Regions from separate parts of the Homo sapiens genome. Here region 1 is reported to be linked to region 2. Evidence: microRNA targets listed by miRTarBase, many of them from high-throughput screens and not tested one by one. Region 2 holds a microRNA gene; the other region holds the end of a gene's coding sequence.

Region 1 (7,105 bases), not on the chromosome of region 2:
AGAACTGTGCCTGGCAGAAACCAGAGACATTCAGTCTCTGTTGAGTAAACGAATGGACAGCTTTGCAAAGGCTCTGTTCTGTTCTGGTTTCCCCACCTCCCTATCAAGAGGGCTGGATGGCCGGGCGCGGCGGTTCATGCCTATAATCCCAGCACTTTGGGAGGCCAAAGTGTGTGGATCACCTGAGGTCAGGAGTTTGAGACCAACCTGGCCAACATGGCGAAACCCCGTCTCTACTAAAAGTACAAAAATTAGCCGGGCATCGTGGCACATGCCTGTAATCCCTGCTACTTGAGAGGCTGAGGCAGGAGAACTGCTTGAACCCAGGAGGCAGAAGTTTGAGTGAGCCGAGATCATGTGACTGCACTCCAGCCTGGGCAACAGAGCAAGACTCTGTCTCAAAAAAAAATTAAAAATAAAAATAAAAAAAAGGGCTGGATGACATGCTTCTAACAGGTTTACTGCATAGGGATCAAACAGCAGATTCTGGAGCTGGGCTGCCTGGGATCATTCTCTGCTCTAGCTGTGTAATCTTGAGCAAGTCAGTTCTCTGTGTGCCTCAATTTCCTATCTGGAAATAGAGATTGATAACAGCACCTCCCTGCCTTATAGGGTTGGTATAAACATTAAATGAAATATACATGAAATGGGCTGGGAGTGGTGGCTCACGCCTTTCATCCCAACACTTTGGGAGGCCGAGTTGGGCGGATCACCTGAGGTCAGGAGTTCAAGACCAGCCTGGCCAACATGGTGAAACCCTGTCTCTACTAAAAATATAAAAATTAGCCGGGCGTGGTGGTGTGCGCCTGTAATCCCGGCTACTCAGGAGCTTGGGAGGCTAAGGCAGGAGAATTGCTTGAACCCAGGAGGCAGAGGTTGCAGTGAGCCGAGATCGCACCACTGCACTCCAGCCTGGGTGACAGTGTGGGACTCTGTCTCAAAAAAAAAAAAAAAAGAAAGATAAGAAAGAAAAGAAAGAAAGAAAAAGAAAGAGGAAAGGAAAGGAAAAGGAAAAGGAAGAAAAAGAAAAAGAACAGTGCCAGGCACAGAGTAAGCACTAGGTATGTGTTTGCTGTTCTTGCTATAGTGAATGCTAAAGTCTGAGGACAGAGTTTACAAATCGGCACACTGTGGACCACTGCCAGCTTGCAGACGTGTTTTGCTTGGCTCACACAGTGTGTTTCTTAAAAAATGGAAGATGCTGCCAACTTGTAAAACTGAAGAGATTTCTTATATCCCTATTTCCAGATCCCCTTGAAAACTTGGAAGAACTAGCCACACTTGGCCTGCGTTCCTGCATGGCAACTATCAGCTCAAATCAGTCATGGCTGCTCCCCTTGGAAAGGTCATGGGGTCTCTCTTTTTTTTTTTTTGGTAGATGCCAGGTCTTGCTATGTTGCCCAGGCTGGCTGGACTCGAACTCCTGGGCTCCTAGGCTCAAGCGATCCTCCTGCCTTGGCCTCCCAAAGTGCTGGGATGAAAGGTGTGAGCCATCACCCCCAATGTCATGGGGTCTCTTGCTTGCTAGTCCCTACCCAGCCAATTTGGCATCCATATTACCTGCCTGGCCCTTTGCAAACATTTGAGTTGATGACCCTATTCTAGGAATTTATAAATTTGGAGTCTGGAACCAGACGGCTTAGGCTCAAATCCTGCCACTTACTTGCTGTGGGACCTTGGGCAGGTGTCTTAACATCTCTGATCCTCAGTTTCCTCATCTGTAAAATGGCCAGAGTAGCAGTACCCACTTTGTAGGCTAACAGATGATGTATATAAAGGCACTGAGGGCAGTGCCTGGTGCTTAGTGACAGCTGGATACAATTTGTATAATGCTATTCTAACTTAGGCCACCTGAGTTTCAGAAGCCCACTCTCTCCCCATCCCTGGTTCTTGTAGGGTCCATTCGATTGCTCTGGGCCTGGGGAAAGAAGAAGGTAGGTGTAGAGGCTGGCGGGTGGAGGTAGGAAAACAGGGCTGAGTATTTTGGGAAATTGGGCCATGGCAGGTGTCAGGAGGTGTTTTCCACAGACAGGGATCTGGGCCAGGCTTAGTCCTGGTTTCTCCCAGAGCCTGGCCCAGCCTCGGTCACCCCTGCTAGGACTGCGGCCAGTCCTGCCCCCGGAACCTAAACCTCCAGCCCCTTCCTCCTGCAGAGAAGGCTCGGGCCCTTAAGCTGTCACCCCAGCAACCTGCACCTGCATATTCTGCCGTGGAGGGATTGTCTCCTTGGGAACAGGCTGGACCATGGGGTTGACCTCCCTCAGCTTGGGTGGCTGCTCCCTTCCCTCTGCAGGCTGTGCAGATGAAGGGGAGCCAACATCCTGTCCCTAGGTGATGCCCCCATCATGAAAGGTAAGCTGGTCTGTGGATTCTGGGACCCCACATAGAAGACCATAGGCTTATGATGACCCTTAGGGTTAGAGAGTTTCCCTGTCATTGTTCAAATATGGAGGTTGTGGCACAGACAGGGCAGGGACTAGCCCAGATCCCCTAGCGCCATGGTCCCCACCCCAACCGCCTCTGATATCCACCCCCACAGGAGTGCGTTCCCCAAAGTACCTCCTGCAGCTCACTTTCTCCTTTTTCCTGGGGTGATGGTGGGGCAACCCCAGACTAACAGAGCAGCAACCCTGGGTCCCAGTTCATTCGCTCCTGCCCAGAGGCAAGGCTTTTACTTTCCACACCTGTCCAATTAGCAGGCTAGTCTGAGCCATCCTTGGTACGTGACCTGCTCTGACATGCCTGGCTCACCCTGGGGCGGTTACTTGGCTGGCTACAGAGGGCGCACCCTCCATGATCTCAGTTTCCCACTGGCTTGCAAGCGGGGTGGAGGCCTGTCCAGGGTCACACAGCTGGCCACAAGCAGGGAGGAGCCAGGACTGTGTCTGCTGATCCTCACCCTGGGACCTCCCTCCATCCCACTTCCTGTGAGGCCACTGCTGGGGCAGACCGTTAGCCAACACCGTCCTCCTGCACCTGGGGTTTATCAGCTTGAGACTCGCTTATCAGTTTCCTCATCAGCCTCCTTCCCCAGCGGTTCCCTCCCGGGCATGATCTCTTGTCAGTTTTCCTGGTTGACACTAGCACCCCTTGGGCCCGCTGGAGAGTGGCCACCTTCCCTGGGACGGGCCCACCTTCAGCTGGGTGACCCTTCCACCCAGCTAATCCATCTCGAGCCCCCCACCTGTTGATGCAGCCCCCACCCAGCTGACCTGCCTTTGAAGCTGGCACTGGGACTTAGGAACCACTTCTGCCAGGTACAGGCTCCATCTGGACCACTCTGCCTCACTGTTGCAGTCAACCCCACCAGCGATTTGTTCACCCCACTCCCACTACGACACCTTTAGGACTTTCGTGTCCTCCGGTGGCCCCGTCTCCTGGGGTCCCCTGTACACACACATCCGTAAGAAGGGACTTGCTCAGTCCCGCGGGACCTTGTTCCTTCCCCCTTTGACGAAAGCCCCCTTTAACCTGTCTCCCTTGGGACCTGTTTACTTCGCCCCCCCCCCGACCTGTGCCCCCCACTTGCTCTGCCCCACCGGGTGTGACCCCTCCCGGCCCCTCACCATGGCGAAGCCCGAGAGCAAGGCAGACGTGCGGCTGGAAGCTTTGAGCTTGGCCCGGCTGAGGTAGAGGCGGCGCCAGCTGAGCGCCCGCAGCGAGTGCTGACTGGCCCCCATGAGGTCCAGGTAGCCGCGGTGCACGAACTCCCGGTACGTGGCCGAGCCTGCAGGGCTCTCGCCCTCAGGGTTCAGCGGGGCCTGCTCGCCCGCGTCCCCCTCGCCGCCCTTCATCCTGGGGGGGGGGCGGCACCAGGCGGTCACTACGGGGCGGAAGCGCCTCGGGGGCCCCAGCCGGGCCGGCCCAAGCCCGGGGGCGGCCCCATTCCCAGACAGGACGAGCAGGATGCAGGCGGCGGGCGCCCAGGAAGAGGCACCCCCAGTGGAGCAAGAAAAGCAGCGTCTGCGGGGAGCCCCAGGAGCCGGAGCGGGACAGCGGAGGCCAAAACAGGAACTGGGACAGAGGCGGAGCCGGGGCTAGCCACATGATGGGGTGGAGCCGGGGACCAAGTCCCCGCAGTCCCGGGCCCGCAGAGATTCCCCGCGACCCCTACCCACCAAGAACGTTATCCAAGCGCCCGGACCCCACCGAGGTGCACGCCAACCCCAGCCCCCTCCAAGGTACAGCTGGACACCCCAGGTGTCCACACTTCCAAATCCCTCCCAAAATGAGTCCAGGAGAGGTGAGCCCACTCATCTGTAGGTAGGGACCCCGCAGATACACACACGAACTCCGCAGCCCCGGCTGGAAGATTTTGAGTTTTATAGCAAACCGTATTGTACAGACCCGGGGCCCAGGGGCCCAGCCCGGCTGGGTCCCCCGCTTGCCCCTCGCCGGGCTGCCTCTTCCCTCCCCCAAGCGGCCCCATTCTCAAGCCTCTCGCTATCCCCAGGCCCCACCCCTCCGGCCTTTGGTCCGCCCAGCCCTCCCCCCACCCGCGCACCTCCCTGTTACCTGAGGTATGTGGATAGATCTCCCCTCCCCTACATGGTAAGCCCCGGCCCCCCGGAGGCCTGCGCGGAGGGGCGGGACCTGGCCCGGCTCATCCCCGGGGTCCCGAAGCCCCACCCCGCGCTCGAGGAAGGGGCAGGGAAGGAGGGCCAGCAGAGTCTGTTACTAGGTTCCCATGGCAACTAAGAGGGGGCCATTTCCAGCCTTAGCACTGGCATCGGGAGGTGTCCGTTGGCTGCTATTTCCATGGCAACCAGGAGTGGCAGTTCCCTGGGCAAATGGGATACAAGTTTCCATGACGATGAAAGAGTGGGAAGAGCCAGGCTGGAGGAGTCCCATGGTCCCCATTCTTGGGCTGGCGCCCCCAGCCATAATGCGGGTCCGGCGGGTGCCGCCGCTCAATACAGTAAAACAAGAACAAGCCTGGGGGTGGCGCAGTCCCAAATGGGCGCCCACCGGCCCGGTCTCAGGTCTCAGTCCAAGCTGGTCCAGTCCCCTCACACCCCGGCTCCCCCAGGTCCGAGATTCCCCCGGTTCAAGTAACACTTCAGTACAGATGAATGTTCAAGTATTGTGCGGAGAGGCGGGCAGGGGGTTGGGGCGCCCCTCGCCACTCCCCTGGGCCGCGAGCTGAAGAGCGGCTGCCCGCGGCCCCCACTCCTTGCAATAGCTGCCGTTTTCAGTGACGTTCAAGGAGTCAGGGTCAGGGGGAAGGAACTGAAGCCTGGGGAGGGGGGAAGCAGAGAGGTGACCCCCAAGGGGGTATTGCTGTCCCCACACCTGCTCTCATCCCCACCTCCAGCTCAGCCCCAGCTTGCCCCTGGTTCCCCTACCTCTGACACCTGGATCCCCAATTGCTCCTCCGGTTTTCCTTTTGTGGCCCCACCCCCACCCCCCACTCCAAGTAACTGGTCTTTGTTCCCTGAACCCTTGGTGGTCTGCTGTCTGCCCCGCCCCCCGCCCCTTCCACCTCCCCCAGCCCCTGGCTCCCATATCCTGTGTGTGTCCTTTCCCCATTCTCCCCCCCAACACTTGCACCATAACCCCCCTCCCACCGTCCCTTCGGCTCAGCACCCTCCAGTACCTCTGACCCACTCCCCCAGGGGATGGACAATGAAGCAGGTAGCAGGGGCAGGACATAGGAAGGAGAAACCCCCAGAGATATCAGTGCAGGGGGGAAAGAAGGGGGTGGCTGGCTTGAGTCCCTGGGTGGGAATCCCAAGTCACTGACACTCAGGAATCCCAGGGTGGTGAGGTGGGAACCTGGCCTCCCAGCAGGGGTGAAATGAAGCCGGAGGTCCAGGCTCCTGTCGAGTCCGGGGGAGGGTGGGGGGCGCCCAACTAGCTGTCCTTGAGAAGCAGCTTCTCCTCAGGGCAGCGGAAGGGGCCAGGGGGCCCGGCAGCTGCCAGCCGGGCACAAGCTTCGGGTGAGAGCTGGCGGCAGGAGCGCAGGTCTAGGCGGCGTAGACGAGGGCAGCGGCGGAACAGCGGGAGGCAGTGGTCCGTTAGGCGGTGGCAACCTGGGGATGGGGCAGTGGAGCTGAGACCAGGCAGGTGAGCAAGGGGTTGGCACTGGCCGTGGGGATCCACAGGCTGGCAGGACGGATGGGGGACCGTGCTTACCAGCAAGATTGAGGTGCACCAGGGTCTCGCGGAGTGGGGACGTGGGGGCCGTGAGGAGGTGAACACTGGGGTCCCCGACGTGGGCGCAGTGGCTCAGGTCCAGGGCGCTCAGCTGGGGTGCGTGACGCAGCAGGAGACGCAGGGAGGCATCTGTCAGCTCCAAACCTGCCAGACGCAGTTCTGCCACCCCCTGCAGCCGACCACGGCTCTCTGTTTGCCCTGGGCAGCCAGATGAGAGGTCAGCACTCCTGGCCACTCCCATCCCTGCGCCCAGGTATCCAGACCATCTGCCCTCCACCTGCTTCCCACATAAGTGAGTGACCTGGTGCACTCTGTGGCTTGCTCTTCTCAAAAACACCCTCATGGCCTGACCTCATCTGTCCACTCCTCACATCACCTCCTCGGAGGCCTTCCATGATTATTGTATTTGAGACTACAATATTCTGCCAGGCGTGGTGGCTCATGCCTGTAATCCTAGCACTTTGGGAAGCCGAGGCAGGCGGCTCACTTGAGGTCAGGAGTTCGAGACTAGCCTGGCCTAACATGGCAAAACCTTGTCTCTACTCAACATACAAAAATTAGCCGGGTATGGTGGCAGGCGCCTGTAATCCCGGCTACTCAGGAGGCTGAGGCAGGAGAATCACTTGAACCCGAGAGGTGGAGGTTGCAGTGAGCCACGATTGTGCCACTGCACCCCAGCCTGGGCAACAGAGCGAGACTCCATCTCAAAATAAATAAATAAATAAATAAAAGAGTCTGTGACCTCCCCTCCTCTCTCTTGCTGTCTTGCCATGTGACATGCCGATTCCTTCACGTTCCATCAAGAGTAAAAGCTACGTGAGGCTTCCCCAGAAGCTGAGCAGACGCAGGCACGATACTTCCTGTACAGCTTGCAGAATCCTGAGCCAATTCAACCTCTTTTCTTTATAAATTACCCAGCCGAAGGTATTTCTTTATAGCAATGCAAAAA
Region 2 (7,119 bases):
CTTACTAGAGAGTAAGTGTTACAGAAATAGGTACTCTATTTTTTAATGCTGCTACATTTACAGCACAATTCTATTTTTTGCTAATTGAAAGCCAGATTCTTTGCTTACGATGTTAAAACCATAGCTTCATAGCTAAGACCAGACCTAGGGAATCTTTCATTTAAATTCACCAGCCACCACCTTTTCTTTGGTGCCCCTCATAATACATCCTCCCTGGCAGCATACCATTACTGTACTTTAGGAAAATGGCGATGGTGAAGGGGCAGATTTTGCTTTCCATGCTTGCTGTGAATTCGGGGTCTACTGTACAAACGATGCACAGGGTCTCCATCACCAGGTTGAGGACCTCTGAGCTGAACTGGGCTGCTAGGTGAATTAAGCCATCAAGGATGCTGGGGAGGAAGGGCTGGAGCACGTGGGTACTCTCTGAGACTTTCAGTTGGTCACAATAACTAGAGAGAGATAGATAAGCAAGAATTATTAAAAAAAATTCAATTCCTGGTTTTCCCAATCAATCTCACATATTATAGCATTTGTATGTGTAGCTTTATAAAGCTAATTCTAAAGTTAGGTTTAAGTTTCTACTTCTTTCTGGATGTATTATATAAACATCAACACCACCATTTCTATGTTCTGTAATTTATTTCTTTGACTTTTGCTATTTTCTTTAAAAACTTCTGCTTTTTTTCTTGAGGTTTTTTTTTTTTGCATCCTGAAACAAGCTTAATTTATATAAACATTTTATGTTTCACTTTCAAAATCAGCCTATTAGCTGTAGGATTTAAAGTTCCCTCTATAGTTTTACTGTATTAGCCTCTTTTCAATCAACAAATATTTACTGAATGTTGCTTATCATGTCCAATATGATACAATTGTTAAAAATACATTGTCTAGGACCAGGCACGGTGGCTCACACCTGTGATCCCAGCACTTTGGGGGGCCAAGGCAGGTGGCCCAGTTGTTCTCTTCGAACTTGAGACAGAGGTACTTCAGAAGAAAGTCATATTATGTCAGGCAGTATAGGAAGCCACAGGATATATATATAATATTTTCGTGGGACATCAGTTTCCCCTGGAGACTTCAGGGTAAAGAGAAGATTAGGTGTTAGGAGTAACACAAGTTAAAGAAACACCGACTTCCAAAATAAAGTCCAACCTCTTTCAGCATGGCATTTAAGATCCAGCATGATGTAGATAGATGATGCAAACTCTGTAATCTACCATACGGTACAGTTTCAAGTTCATTAGAGGGGCAAAGTAACTATAAACCCTTAGAATAGAAGTGGGAAATGGAGCGAACTCCTGACCTCAGGTGATCCACTTGCCTTGGCCCCACAAAGTGCTGGGATCACAGGTGTGAGCCACCGTGTCTGGTCCTAGACAATGTATTTTTAACAACTGTATCATATTGGACATGATAAGCAACATTCAGTAAATATTTGTTGATTGAAATGAGGCGAATACAGTCTGACATAAATTTGAGTTGAAAAATGTGAAACAAGTATAATTATTTGTCAATCAGTATCTTGTTTCAGAGATTATTTAAGGGAGTTTGCAATGATACATAAACTATGACATGAAGGAATAAATTAAAACTGGGGCTAAAGAAAAAAAGAAAAGCAACGGTGGAATGCTGATCATTAAAAGGTTACTAGTGACATTAGAAAAGACAGCTGCAGGCCGGGCGCGGTGGCTCATGTCTGTAATCCCAGCACTTTGGGAGGTGGGGGCGAGCGGATCACCCGAGGTCAGGAGTTTGAAACCAGCCTGACCAACATGGAAAAACCCTGTCTCTACTAAAAATACAAAATTAGCTGGGTGTGGTGGCACATGCCTGTAATCCCAGCTGCTGGGGAGGCTGAAGCAGGAGAATTGCTTGAACCCAGGAGGCAGAGGTTGTGGTGAGCCGAGATCGCGCCACTGCACTCCAGCCTGGGCGACAGACAGCAAGACTCCGTCTCAGAAAAGAAAAAAAAAAAAAAAAAAGAAAAATAGTTCCAATAGTGTGACACGGACATAAGCCAGTCTGCAATTGGCTGGTAAACTAAATAGGAAATGACCAAAGGGAAACTCTTGACTGAAAGAAAGATAGCTAATGATCCATTCATAGGACAGTTCTTAATCGGGATCCACAGATAGGCTTCAAGGAATCCAGTGTTTGACAATGAATATAAAATTTTGTAAACATATATGAGTGTCCATTTCTCTGGCCCACATATCCACAGCTTTTGTCATCCTACAGAGATATCTGTTACATCTCTCAAGAAAACTATTAAACCACTACCCATGTGGTCCAAGAGATATGAACATTAAAAATAAAAGTTTTCTTCACAGTTCTTCTGATTATAAAAGTAATATAAACTTGTTGAAACAAACAAACAAACAAAATATTTTATATATATAACAGAGAATGAAAGTTCTTTGTACTCTAATCTCCCCCAGAGAGAATCAATGTTGGTAAGTATGCCTGATAGGTACTGCTGTCTACCTAAAACACTCTGGAAAGTAATGGGCTTATTTTACCCAAAGTACTTTCACATTCATACCAAACTCCTCTCACAGCTTGCAGCTGCAAACATTTCCATAAAATCACAACACAAAGTGGATAATTCTCCAATGAAATCAAGTTTCACTAAGGTCAGAAGCTAAACAGGCAGTGACCACAGGTACAAACTCAGAAAAACCCTTAAAATAACATTCATGCCTTAAGCAGCTTAGGGCTCTCTCTTCTCAGACATTTAAAATGGTGTTAGAGCTTTCTGAAAAAGCTATACTTAGTTTGCCTCTTAAGATGATACTTCTAATTATTTTAGAGCCAAAGATCTGCTTCACCTAGATTGAAGCAGAAAAAGATGGGACGGTGTTTATGGTCATAACATTAACCATTTAATTAAAACAGGCAGTTCTTGAATGCTTTCTAATGACATATAACACACGGCATCTCAAAAGATACTCCTCTGCCTCAAAAGATAAGACAGGGCAGGCACATGGAAAATAAATTTTGTGTTGGTAGTTATAGGATTCAGTTGAGATGTTTAAGTTTGAGCCTAAGATATTCCTTAAAACAACAATGGTCCTTCTAGTCTGCGTAGGAATATAAATAAATGACTTTTGATCCATTAGTAACACTAGCCTTAAAAAAGATAGGTAAAACTGGGAAAAAATAAGCAGTGTTTCTAGGTCACATTATCCCAGATTTGGTTTCTAATATAATCAACCAACAAAATGATGTGGACTCTAATCCTGCTTCTATCATTCATCAATTGTGCAACCCTGTGCAAAACATTTTTCTCTCCAAACCTCAGGTTCTTCACCATTGAGAGAAAGGGAGTTGCCTAGATGATTCCAGAACTGGAGCGAATTTAAAGAGGAAGAGGAGCAGAAAGGAACAGGACATCTTCTGGACTCACAAAAGCCATGTCTCTAGCATGGTTTCTTTCCCTGTCCTTCCAACATTCACCCTGAAGGATATCATTAGCAGGGATTTCCAAGCAACATAATACACTGGAAAACTGTGATTTGTTATATCTAACCTGAGCAACTTTCCCTTAATTATCACGCTAGGGTAGCATACTCACCCCCAGATGGCTCTCACTGCAGAAATTCGAACTGATGGGGGCTGTGTCTCGTGAAGACCACTAACTGTTGCCTGTAGGAACTGCTGGATCAGTTCAGGGGACATAGCAACAGTGAACCGACTGGCAGCCCAAAGTGCCCGGCCCAAGAGGAAAGGAGACACTGGGAGAAAGACAGAACAATTAGGGGCTGGAAAATGAAAATTCCTTTTACTTGTTCTTTCTCTTTCCCACATTCATTCCTCAATTTTTTTTTTTTGAGATGGAGTCTCACTCTGTCACCCAGGATGGAGTGCGATGGCGTGATCTCGGCTCACTGCAACCTCCGTCCCCCGGGTTCAAGCAACTGTCCTGCCTCAGCCTCCTGAGTAGTTGGGATCACAGGCGCCTGCCACCATGCCCGGCTAATTTTTTGTATTTTTAGTAGAGATGGCGTTTTGCCATGTTGGCCAGGCTGGTCTCAAACTCTGGACCTCAAGTGATCTGTCTGCCTCGGCCTCCCAAAGTGCTGGGATTACAGGCATGAGCCACCGCATCCGGCCCTCCATTCCTCAATTTTTTAGAAGTAAATAGATGCTACATAATATGTACAACTCATTTGAGAGAAAAAGCATAACCTTGTATGATGAAAGCAAATGTGTGACCTGTGGTACAAAATCAATTTCCCAGTTTTCCCTTGTCTCTTCTGAGCAAAGTAGATCTTGAATATTATTAGACTAAAAAGACTTTACCACCCCAGTCCTCACCCCCAGCTCTCATTATTCCTTACCTGTACTACTAGTTAATCTTTTTTTTTTTTTTTTTGAGATGAAGTTTCATTCTTGTTGCCCAGGCTGGAGTGCAACAGTGCGATCTCGGCTCACCACAACCTCCACCTCCCTGGTTCAAGTGATTCTCCTGCCTCAGCCTCCCCAGTAGCTGGGATTACAGGCATGCACCACCACGCCCAGCTAATTTTGTATTTTTAGTAGAGATGGGCTTTCTCCATGTTGGTCAGGCTGGTCTCAAACTCCTGACCTTAGGTGATCTGCCTGCCTTGGCCTCCAAAAGTGCTGGGATTACAGGTGTGAGCCATGGTACCCGCCCACTTAATCTTCTAAGTTGCCATCTCCATTGCTAGTTTATTCCCACTTTTGGACCACTCTTTTTTTTTGAGATGGAGTCTTGCTCTGTTGCCCAGGCTGGAGTGTAGTGGCACAATCTCAGCTCACTGTAACCGCTGCTTCCCGGGTTCGAGCGATTCTCCTGCCTCAGCCTCCCGAGCAGCTGGGATTACAGGTGCGTACCACCACGCCTGGCTAATTTTTGTATTTTTAGTAGAGAGGGGGTTTCACCATGTTGGCCAGGCTGGTCTTGAACTCCTGAACTCAAGCAATCCACTCGGCTTGGCCTCCCAAAGTGCTGAGATTACAGGCATGAGCCACCGCGTGCAGCCTTGGACCACTCTTAAAACATAAATTATAGCTCTGATCATGTCATTCTTCTATTTAAAATCTGTCAATTAATTCCATAGTCCACCAAATAAAGATTACCTTAGTCATCACGTTATTCAAGGCTCCCTAAGATCAGTGACTCTAGCATTACCTATGATTTCCCTTTATGGTTTCCAAACTCAAGTACACATCCCTCCTTAGCAACTTACATCTTACTCTCCCAGCTCTCTGCCTTGTTCATATTGCAAGCCAACATATTCACCTCCTTGCATTACCTAATTCATCTCTTAGGCTGAAGCAATTCTAACTATCTCTATGCCACAGTAATTCTGTCTTTAGTGTTCTTACATGTTATATATTTCGTTTGATAGTCTAGCCACTAATGTAAGGATTACTACCCTTGTTTACTATAAGCTGCTGAGGAGAGACTATTCTTATTCAGCTTGTCACAGGGCTTAACTTGTTTACTCACACAATAAACATCTTGTTGACGGAAAACACTGAACAGAACCTAATAAACTGTGCCAGTCAAATTACGCAATACAGATGCTCCTCTGCTTATGATGGGGTTACTTCCTGATAAACACATCGTAAGTTGAAAATACTGTAAGTTAAAAATGCATTTAAATTTAATACTGAACATCACAGCTTAGCCGGGCCTACCTTAAACATGCTCAGAACACTTACATTAGCGTAAAGTTGGGCAAACTCACGTAACACAAAGCCTATTTTATAATAAAGTGTTGAATATCTCATATAATTTATTGAATACTATACTGTAAGTGAAAACAGAATGGTTGTAAGGGTACTTGAAGTATAATTTCTACTAAATGCATATTGCTTTGGCATCACTGTAAAGATGAAAAATCATAAGTCCAACCACTGTAAGTGAGAAACTGATAATGTACAGAAGCAGTTCCCAAAGGATGGTCCAGAAATTCCCTAAAGTTAAAACTATTTTCACAGTAATACAGAAACATTATTTTTTTCACTTTCATTCCTTCTTTTTTTTGAGACAGAGTCTCGCTCTGTTGCCCAGGCTGGAGCGCACTGGCACAATCTCGGCTCACTGCAACCTCCGCCTCCTGGGTTCAAGCAATTCCTCTACCTCAGCCTCCTGAGTAGCTGGGATTACAGACGCGTGCCACCACGCCCAGCTAATTTTTGTATTTTTAGTAGAGATGGGGTTAGGCCATGTTAGCCAGGCTGGTCTCGAACTCCTGACCTCATGATCCGCCCACCTCAGCCTCCCAAAGTGCTGGGGTTACAGGCATAAGCCACCATGCCCGGCCTCACTTTCATTCTTTCACAAGTATACAGTGGAGTTTTCCAGAGGTTATATGGTATGTGATATCATGGCTCTGACAGCCAGGGGAAAACATGTTTCCATTTCTTTTATTTTAAAAACAACTCAGTTTTAATCTTTAGTATGTTAAATATTAATAAATTAAAGCCACATAAAAATGTCTTTTAAATTATTGATAATTTGTAACCAAAAAGTTTCAGAATGGTTGGTGTAGAAAAGGTTTTAGCTACAGGTAGGATTAACAAATGATATATATTGAGCCTTTTTCCAGACTAAATAACAAATATTCTAAAATTTCCAAAGTTTTTGAAAAATCTTTGCTAGGGTAAACTCTATAAGAAATGTGTTGATGGGCTTCAGAAATCATTCAATGTGTAACTATGGGATGCCTACTCAAGGCACTTGTAGGATACAAAGATTAGACATGATTTCTACTCTCAGAGACCTTACTAGTAGGAGTAAGAAAACATATTCAACAATGCAGCATATGATAAGTACAGAGTGAAACAGGATATTCCCAACGCATCTGAGCTCTGGATGTACAACCATTTTAATTTGTGATTCAGAGAATGGAAGTGATGGACTGAGACACCCGATAATAGATTACCTATTTAAAATCACAGAGCAGAACATTTTCAAATGACATAAGCTACTCCCAGAACTATCCTATGGAGAGGAAGTAAATGGACCGAAAATGGAGCAAACAATACCAAAGGTTCCATGATTTAAGTACTGAGAGAGAAAGCAAAGGCAGTGTTTTCGGATGGTGATCTGGCTCCAAGGATGAGAAAAGGCATGGCATGGCA

What was found. The annotated mature microRNA hsa-miR-6739-5p reads UGGGAAAGAGAAAGAACAAGUA and lies in region 2 at 3,786-3,807, opposite strand. An mRNA with a match to its seed (bases 2 to 7 or 8) in the 3' UTR can be bound and repressed. Matches are read on the target gene's strand: a 7mer-m8 pairs with bases 2 to 8, a 7mer-A1 pairs with bases 2 to 7 and ends in A, and an 8mer does both.
Region 1: miRTarBase lists FBXL19 as a target of hsa-miR-6739-5p. Seed matches in the 3' UTR shown: 7mer-m8 at 5,688-5,694.

The regions. Positions count from the first base shown.
Region 1 is chr16:30,945,979-30,953,083 of GRCh38, reverse strand. It overlaps FBXL19 (F-box and leucine rich repeat protein 19), which reads right to left. Exons shown (of 11, transcript NM_001382779.1): 10 at 6,136-6,354; 11 at 4,301-6,032. The coding sequence ends at 5,854. It overlaps ORAI3 (ORAI calcium release-activated calcium modulator 3), which reads right to left and starts at 4,016. Exons shown (of 2, transcript NM_152288.3): 1 at 3,567-4,016. The coding sequence starts at 3,794. RefSeq lists enhancers at 1-83, 2,143-2,660, 2,661-2,890, 3,179-3,697 and silencers at 3,621-3,670, 3,711-3,970, 4,341-4,590.
Region 2 is chr1:201,860,066-201,867,184 of GRCh38, reverse strand. MIR6739 (microRNA 6739) reads right to left here and starts at 3,812; the gene lies at 3,738-3,812. IPO9 (importin 9) reads right to left here. Exons shown (of 24, transcript NM_018085.5): 14 at 3,578-3,737; 15 at 226-452.